Regions from separate parts of the Homo sapiens genome. Here region 1 is linked to region 2. Evidence: fine-mapped expression QTL. A gene starts in region 2. The other region holds a variant in brackets. All regions are shown on one strand. Distances are from middle to middle.

The links. PIP is the estimated chance that this variant, and not a neighbour inherited with it, causes the effect. A credible set is the group of variants that fine-mapping cannot tell apart.
Region 1: its variant is the best candidate, but not a certain one, in a credible set for the expression of CEP19 in whole blood (INTERVAL, PIP 0.54).

Annotation. Positions count from the first base shown.
Region 1 is chr3:196,729,968-196,734,361 of GRCh38, reverse strand. PIGX (phosphatidylinositol glycan anchor biosynthesis class X) reads right to left here. Exons shown (of 6, transcript NM_017861.4): 5 at 3,270-3,370; 6 at 1-603. The coding sequence ends at 460. Among named protein-coding and RNA genes, the nearest start is that of PAK2, 7.7 kb to the left of the region's middle. The variant C/T (reference allele first, on the strand shown) is at 1,835.
Region 2 is chr3:196,710,344-196,714,737 of GRCh38, reverse strand. CEP19 (centrosomal protein 19) reads left to right here and starts at 2,488. Exons shown (of 3, transcript NM_032898.5): 1 at 2,488-2,809. It overlaps PIGX (phosphatidylinositol glycan anchor biosynthesis class X), which reads right to left and starts at 2,361. Exons shown (of 6, transcript NM_017861.4): 1 at 2,094-2,361. The coding sequence starts at 2,205. RefSeq lists silencers at 1,962-2,591, 2,426-2,738.

The DNA.
Region 1 (4,394 bases), 20 kb before region 2:
GACCTCTGGTGATCCGCCCACCTCGGCCTCCCAAAGTGCTGGGATTACAGGTGTGAGCCACTGTGCCTGGCCTATTTTATTCTTATTTATAACGGTTTTCTCAATTTGTAGCTTAAATTGAAAGTACTTGCAAAATGAGAATAATTTGTCTCTACTACATAAAGAAATAATTTTTCTACCCCAAATGAAGATAAAGTCACTTCTCACAAAATAAACATTAATTTAGCAGAATTAAGTTTCCCCTTATGGCATCTGATGCTTGAGGATTACCAAGGATCCATGCAATAGAGCACTACATTTTGGAATTAGCTGAGAATGATCCCAAATTTCCTCTAGTAAACATAATTTTGGCCACAAATGAAGACAAAAGATAAAAGTAATTAATTCTAGAAGAACACCTCTCGTCAGAAATTAATAGATCTTATTTAGGTTTCTAGGAAGCATTTAACTACATAAAACTTATAGGGAAAAATGGCCATATTTGAAAACTGCTACAAGGATCAATGTAGAGCACAGGATTGTAATGAGCAGAGTCACAGAACATACTAGAGAGGTATGTACAGTCAGTCCCACTGGAACTTGTAGAATCACATTCTTATATACCTATGGAGAGAGAGAGAGAAGTTAGACATTGAAAATGCATGTCATGGGCCCGGTGTGGTAGCTCATGCCTGTAATCCCAGCACTTCGGGAGGCCAAGGCGGGCAGATCGCTTGAGGTCAGGAGTTCAAAACCAGCCTGGCCAACATCTCTACTAAACCATCTCTACTAAAAATACAAAAATTAGCCAGGTGTGGTGGCAGGTGCCTGTAGTCCCAGCTACTAGGGAGGCTAAGACAGAACAATCACTTGAACCCGGGAGGCGGAGGTTTGCAGTGAGCTGAGATCGTGCCACTGTACTCCAGCCTGGGAGACAGAGGAAGACTCTGTCTCAAATAAATAAATAAATAAATAAAAATAGTAAAATAAAATAAATGTCATAAGGTGAGACCACTATTTCTTTGATTTTTAATTGGATATTTTTATTTCCTTTTTCTTTTAAATATATTTCAGCCAGTGCTACACTACATGTAATATTATTGGTTTGAATGACTTTTGAATCTAACATTTCATTTAATGTTACAGAATCAGACTCAATTCCCACAATAATTTGTTAAATCTCATTAGTTCTGATTTTTCTGCTTTTTACATAAAGTATATTATTTTAAGAAAAGCTATATCCCAGTGTCACCTCTGTAATCAATATAAACATTTACTTCCTCTTACCATGTTTCAAATTAGAATACAGAATTCTCTCTAAATTGAAGACTTAGAGGAAAAACATTAAAACAACAAAAAACTAAATTATTCTTTCATTCCCATTTGCCTTTCTCTCCCCAGATAGCTTTTAAAGCCTTGTTATTCCCATATTGTACAGCTGGATGTGGCCTTTACTATGACTAGCAATGGAAAAGCTCCTACATTCAACTCAGTTTCTATTTTCTATTTGGTTTTGAAGATAAAGTTCAATGAAAAACACTGGGAAAGTTTATACTTTAAAAATAAGTTTTAAAAAACATTAAAATGTACGTAACTTGGGAATACTTTTTCTTTTTGTAAATACCTGAATTATGATTTCACACCCCAAAAAATACAAGTAACCAACCCAATCTGCAACAAAGTGCTATCTGAAAACCGTCATTCAAAAAAATGACATCTTCAACAATCCTTGGGATGGAATACCACCTTAGTAATGGCCACCTATTTTTCTGGTATATATGAAGATGAAATATATATAAAGTTGGCCGGGTGCAGTGGCTCATGCCTGTAATCCCAGCACTTTGGGAGGCTGAGG[C/T]AGGCGGATCATGAGGTCAGGAGTTTGAGACCAGCCTGGCCAACACAGTGAAACCCTGTCTCTACTAAAAATACAAAAATTATCCAGGCATGGTGGCACGTGCCTATAGTCCCAGCTACTCAGGAGGCTGAGGCAGGAGAATGACTTGAACCCGGGAGGCGGAGGTTGTGGTGAGCCGAGATCGTGCCACTGCACTCCAGCCTGGGCAACAGAGCGAGACTCCGTCTCAAAAAAAAAAATAAAATAAAAAAAAAAATAAAATAAAATAAAATATATATATATATATATATATATATATATATATATATATAAATAATATATACATATAGTTAAAAGCTATATTTAAAGTGTTAAATTATTATGACCTCTTATGGCAAGTTACAGAATTTTAAAGGCAACTGAAGTCAGGTGTGGTGGCTCACGCCTGTAATCCCAGCACTTTGGGAGGCTGACGGGGGTGGATCACCTGAAGTCAGGAGTTTGAGACCAGCCTGACCAACAAGGTGAAACCCCGTCTCTACTAAAAATACAAAAATTAGCCGGGCATGGTGGCAGGCGCCTATAGTCCCAGCTACTCGGGAGGCTGAGACAGGAGAACTGATTGAACAGGGAGGCGGAGGTTGCAGTGAGCCAAGATTGCACCACTGCACTCCAGCCTGGGCAACAGAGCGAGACTCTGTCTCAAAATAAATAAATAAATAAATAAGGACAACTGAATTCAAAATGTTTTAAAAGGGTCACTACTTATCTTGTAGCAATACACACTAATTTGCTAAATCAATAAATCATAAACACTAAGCATACTCTTCATTGACATAATCAATCAAATGCAGGTCTCCAGATGTATTTTAGAGTTTGAGAAAAATTTTCAGGTACCATATGGCAATGGCAACCTACTCAAAAACAACTCTACACTGCATAAGATTGCAGAGTCATCCATCTTCCCAACTGTATGTTCAATGAAAGTTCCCCAACAAAAAACAGCAGTGCTTTGTAGTAACCCTTTGCTGTAAGAAAAAACAGCTTTCTATATTAGAAAATGCTAATCCCAGCTGGGCACGGTGGCTCATGCCTGTAATCCCAGCACTCTGGGAGGCCAAGATAGGCGGATCACCTAAAGTCAGGAGTTTGAGACCAGCCTGGCCAACAGGGTGAAACCCTGCCTCTACCAAAACTACAAAAATTAGCTGGGTGTGGTGGCGGGCACCTAGAATCCCAGCTACTTGGGAGGCTGAGGCAGGAGAATCACTTGAACCTGGTAGGCGGAGGCTGCAGTGAGCCGAGATTGTGCCACTGCACTCCAGCCTGGGTGACAGAGCGAGACTCCGCCTAAAAAAAAAAAAAAATGCTAATCTCTTAAATGTGGCAGGAACATTACAGAAAGAGCTTTAAATGAGGCACATGATCTAAAAAACAACATAAAACATTAGCTTACTGATTTATACTTCATCTTGTTCCATTGGCAGATATCCTCATTCTCCAAAGCACAAGGGGCTGCCACTTCTGAGTGAGCCCAGCATTTCAAAATCGGGAACTCTGAGAAAAGTGGTAGAAAATGATGTCAGAAAACCTGTATTTGGACTGAAAGCTAGGCTTGTATTAAACCTCAATAGACAGAAGTTGTCAAACATTTTAATACATTATGTATATGATCTGGACCCATCTATCACATTCTGTTATTTTAGCATCCTTTTTTATGTGAATGCCTAAGAAATTAGAAAATCACAAAAGTATTGCAAAAGTTGAACATGACTTCTTTTTTTTTTTTTTTTTTTTTTTTGAGACAGAGTCTCACTCTGTCACCCAGGCTGGAGTGCTGTGGTGCAATCTCGGCTCACTGCAACCTCCACCTCCTGGGTTCAAGCGATTCTCCTGCCTCAGCCTCCAGAGTAGCTGGGATTACAGGTGCCTGCCATTGCACCCAGCTAATTTTTGTATTTTTAGTAGAGATCGGGTTTCACCATCTTGGCCAGGATGGTCTTGAACTCCTGACCTCGTGATCCACCCACCTCAGTTTCCCAAAGTGTTGGGATTACAGGCGTGAGCCACTACGCCTGGCCAAACATGACTTCTTAATGAATCTCATTGTACTCAAATTTGGGGCTGCTCTTAAAAATTTAATGTAAACTTATTTTTGAAGCATCACTCAGAAAAGTGAACATATCGTAAGTGCAAAACTCGATAAATTTCCATATGAAACACACCCATAAAAGAGCATTCAGATAAAAAGACAGAATATCAGAATCCAGTTCTCTCAGGAGAGGAACTTTTTCAAACTTTATTTATGCTAAGAGGTACCTTTAATAGAAACAGAAAACAAGGTTGGATGAACAAAGGTAATATAATTGAACATTTTTAATTTTCTCGTCATGAAAGGTATGACGGTAACAAATGTAGTATTAAAAACTTCCCATCTGTCGGTTTTTAGTAACAGTGCTACTAACTTTTTTTTTTTTTTTTGAGACAGTCTTGCTCTGTCTCCCAGGCTGGACTGCAGTGGCGCGATCTCAGCTCACTGAAACCTCCGCCTCCCAGGTTCAAGTGATTCCCGTGCCTCAGC
Region 2 (4,394 bases):
CTGTAATCCCAGCACTTTGGGAGGGGGAGGCAGGCAGATCACAAGGTCAACAGTTTAAGACCAACCTGGCCAACATGGTGAAACCCCGTCTTTACTAAAATACAAAAAATTAGCCGGGCGTCGTGGTGTGCACCTGTAGTTCCCGCTACTTGGGAGGCTGAGGCAGGAGAATCGCTTGAACCTGGGAGGTGAAGGTTGCAATAAGCCGAGATTGCGCCACTGCACTAGCCTGGCAAGAGAGCAAGACTCCGTCTCAAAAAAAAAAAAAAAAAAAGAGACAGGGCCTTACTCTGTCACACAAGCTGGAATGCAGTGGCATGATCACAGCTCACTGCAGCCTTGAACTTCTGAGCTCAAGCAATCCTCCCACATCGGCCTCCCAAGTAGCTAGGATTATAGGCCCACGCCACCACACCTGGCTACTTTTAAATTTTTTTGCAGAGACAGGGTCTTGCTATGTTTTCCAGGCTGGTCTTGAACTCTTGGCCTCAAGCAATCCTTCCACCTCAGCCTCCCAATGTGTTAGAATTTCAGGTGTGAGCCACTGTGCCCAGCACAAATCCAGATCTTTCTTCATCCTGTTTAATTTTAATGGGGGTAGGGTGGGAAGTGAGGACTGCTATCCAACTATAAATTAAATTAGAAGAAAAATTATGAACAGGCTTAAATTCTACTGGTATGTACACCAGACAGCAGTTGATCATTGGGACCGGAGAAAGGCTAATTTACAAATAGTACAGCAAATACTAGAATGTCATGATTTTAAAGGCAAAAGTACCATTTTTAAAACGAATTTGTTGAATGTGAATTTACCTTCAACATTTTTCCTCTTAACTATTACTTTGGTAGTGGTGAACTGGCTCTGGAAATTGACTTCTTTTTCCTTTTTTTTTTTTTTTTTGAGACAGAGTCTCCCTCTGTCACCCAGGCTGGAGTGCAATGGCGCGATCTCGGCTCACTGCAACCTCCGCCTCCCTAGTTCAAGCGATTCTCCTGCCTTAGCCCCCTGAGTAGCTGGGACTACAGGGGCACGCCATCACGCCCCGCTAATTTTGACCCCTTTTCAATTATAAAATGCTAACGTTGGAAGCCTCTACAGATTACCAAATCCAACTGTTTAAAAATTCTTCTGGCCGAGCATGGTAGTTCACACCTGTAATCCTGGCACTTTGGGAGGCTGAGGAGGGTGGACCACCTGAGGTCAGGAGTTCAAGACCAGCTTGACCAATACGGCGAAACCCCGTCTCTACTAAAAATACAAAAAATTAGCTGGGCATGGTGGCGGGCACCTGTAATAATCCCAGCTACTTGGGAGGCTGAAGCAGAAGAATTGCTTGAACTTGGGAAAGGCGGAGGTTGCAGTGAGCCGAGATCGCGCCATTGCACTCCAGCCTGGCAACAGAGTGAGACTCCATCTCAAAAAAAAAATCTTCTTGGCCTCATAATCCTTTGTTTAGATAAACTTGAAAACCCAATATGTAAACACACAAGCAGAACTGCACTGATTGACAGATACTAAACGGATCTAAATGATACCAAGGATGACAGAAACATCCTCATTTTACAGATGGAGAAACTTGTAGGGTTTGTGCTTTCCTCCCATCAAACCTTACCCTTTATTGTAATTATTCCCGCACTTGCCCGTCTCAGTAGTACAAGCAGTTTGCCAACTACTACTTGCACGAACAACTAGCAGTTTGCCACGGAGTCCTACATTCAGTTTGGGGATTCTCAGGCCTCACAGGGCGCTAAGGCCTTGCCTGGCCCCTTGGTGATCAGAAGCTTCGTGCAGCTCAAGAGCATCCCAAGACGCTTGACGGCTGACTTTCCTTCTCAGAACTTTAGTAACAGGGCGGCCAGTCCAGCCTGGGAACCGCAGGGCCCGAGCCCGACTCTCCCGGAGACCCGGGATCCGCCGCAGAGCAAAGCGCACGGGAGGGAAGGAGGGCACACGGCTCTAGTGTCTGACCTCCTCCGGCTCGCCCTACTGATCTAGGTCCCGCGCCGGGTCCCCACATCCCCGCAACCCGCCGAGAGGCCCGGGAGCCGGGACCGCTCCCACGCTCTGGCCCCCCAAGCCCCGCCCCCCTTACCGGCGTCAGAGCGCGCGGCGGTGAAGGCCGCGGCGGGCCCGCGCGTGAGCCCGGTCGCCGCCCCGAGGAGCAGCCAGGCGGCCGCCCGAACCGCCGCCACCCGAGCCGCCAGGACGCCGGAAGCCGGACGCCCGAGAGGGGCGCGCGGGGCCAGGTGCGGACGCAGGAAGGGGCCTGGCCGCCCGCAGCTCCTACCGCGCGCTGCCCCAGATTTATCGGCTGGGACCGAGTGCTGGGTGCGCGCGCCTAGCGCCCGCGGTTCCCAGCTGCCTGCAGCCCCGGCCCCCAAGGGTTCCCGCGCGGCGTGGGGCGGTCGTCCCCGCCCAGCTGTTCCTTGCTCCGCCCACCCGGGGGCGGGCGAGGAGCTGCGCACGCGCGGGGACGCGCGCCCGGCCTGTCGCTGTGGAAACCGCTAGGCCAGCGCTCGCCGGGACCTGGAATCCCTGTACGCCGAGGTGGGAGCCGGTGGACCGGTCCCCCAGCCGGCCCCCACCTCCGCTTCCCGGTGTTTGAGGGTTCGGGCCTCCCGCCGGGGAGTTCACCCCTCGGGCTCGTCAGTAGGGCTGTGGCTGTCGCCTCTTCCTGCAGCGCCAGGCTCCGCCCGGTCTCACAGTCGGCTTAGGGGCTTTGCGTGCACTGCGGTTGGGTGGAAAAACCCACTCCTGGTTGTTTAGACGTTGGCCTGCAGACGATGTCATTTCTGTATTCCTCTAAGGGTAAGAAAGCCAGCCTTGCACTAGTGGAGACGTGAGTAGGGAGAGAATCGTCTACTCTTTGGGGACATTCGTACCCTTAGGTGCTGTGGGGCTTCCTAACAAGATTGTGGGCAGTTACTGATCTCTGGGGAGAGGAGTATTCGTGTCCAGGAAGAATAATTGGATAAACGTGCCGTCCTTCTTCCTAAACAGAGTGGAATCTGTAAGCAGGCCAAGAGAGCATCCAGGCGGCTTGGAGTGGAATAGAGGGCTCTAGAGCGGGTGTCTCAAAGAGGAAACAGAGTGTATGTCAAAACATACTATCCAAAACTGAAAATAGCCGGGCAGGTGGCTCACGCCTATAGCCCCAGCACTTTGGGCGAATCACCTGAGGTCAGGAGTTCGAGACCAGCCTGGCCAAGATGGCGAAACCCCGTCTCTACTGAAAATACAAAGATTAGCTGGGCATGGTGGTAGGCACCTGTAATTCCAGCTACTCGGGAGGCTGAGGCACGAGAATCGCTTGAACCCAGGAGGCGGAGGTTGCAGCGAGGGGAGATCACGCCACTGCACTGCAGCCTAGGCGACAGAGGGAGACTCTGTTTCAAAAGAAAAAAAAAAACTGAAAATGGTAGTATAAGCATGTTTCTTAAGAAATGGAGAGAGAAATTTTGGAAGATATGCCTTTTAAAATTCAGTCTGGCTCCCTATGAAGAGGAGTAGGGCCAAGGACGATAGTTTGTTGTTATAAGCCTCATAGAATTATTTTATATTCCAAATACAAACATTACTTTAGCAAAAATTAAAGTTAAATTTTAAAAAGAGTCTAGTAAAAAAAAAACTACATTATTTGAGTACCAACTGCATACATCTTTGACGAGTACAGCCATTGCTTCAGTGTGTGGAGTTTATATGTGCCCCGTAGGTTGTAGTTTACTAACATCAAATTTTAGTTAGGTGAATTGGGAATAGTATTCGTTAAAAAAAAAAAAAAAGCAAGAAAAGAGAAGGAAAAGAAGGAGAAATGGTGTGAGCTCATTGCATCAGATTAGAGGTAGAGCACAGTAATTTTTTAAAGTAGTTTTTTTTTTTTTTTTTTTTTTTTTTAAGAATAGGCGTATCATGCTTTGGAGAGGCTGTTGTGCAGTGGCACCATCTCAACTCACTGCAGCCCCAAACTCCTGGGTTCAGGCGATTCTCCCACCTTGGCCTTTGGTGTGGCTGGGACTACAGGTGCATGCTGCCATGCCTGGCCAATTTTTAAATTTTTTGTAGAGACATGCATGGTCTCGCTGTGTTGCCCAGGCTGGTCTCAAACTCCTGGCCTCAAGGTATCTCCTCTCCTTGGCCTCCCAAAGTGTTGGGATTACAGGCCTGAGCCACCACACCTGCCTCCATCTTTTTGAGATGGAGTCTTGCTCTTGTCACCCATGCTGGAGTGCAGTGGTACCATCTCAGCTCACTGCAACCTCCGCCTCCCAGGTTCAAGTGATTCTCCTGCCTTGGCCTCTCGAGTAGCTGGGATTACAGGCACCTGCCACTATGTCCAGCTAATTTTTGTATTTTTAGTACAGACGTGGTTTTCACCATGTTGGCCAGGCTGGTC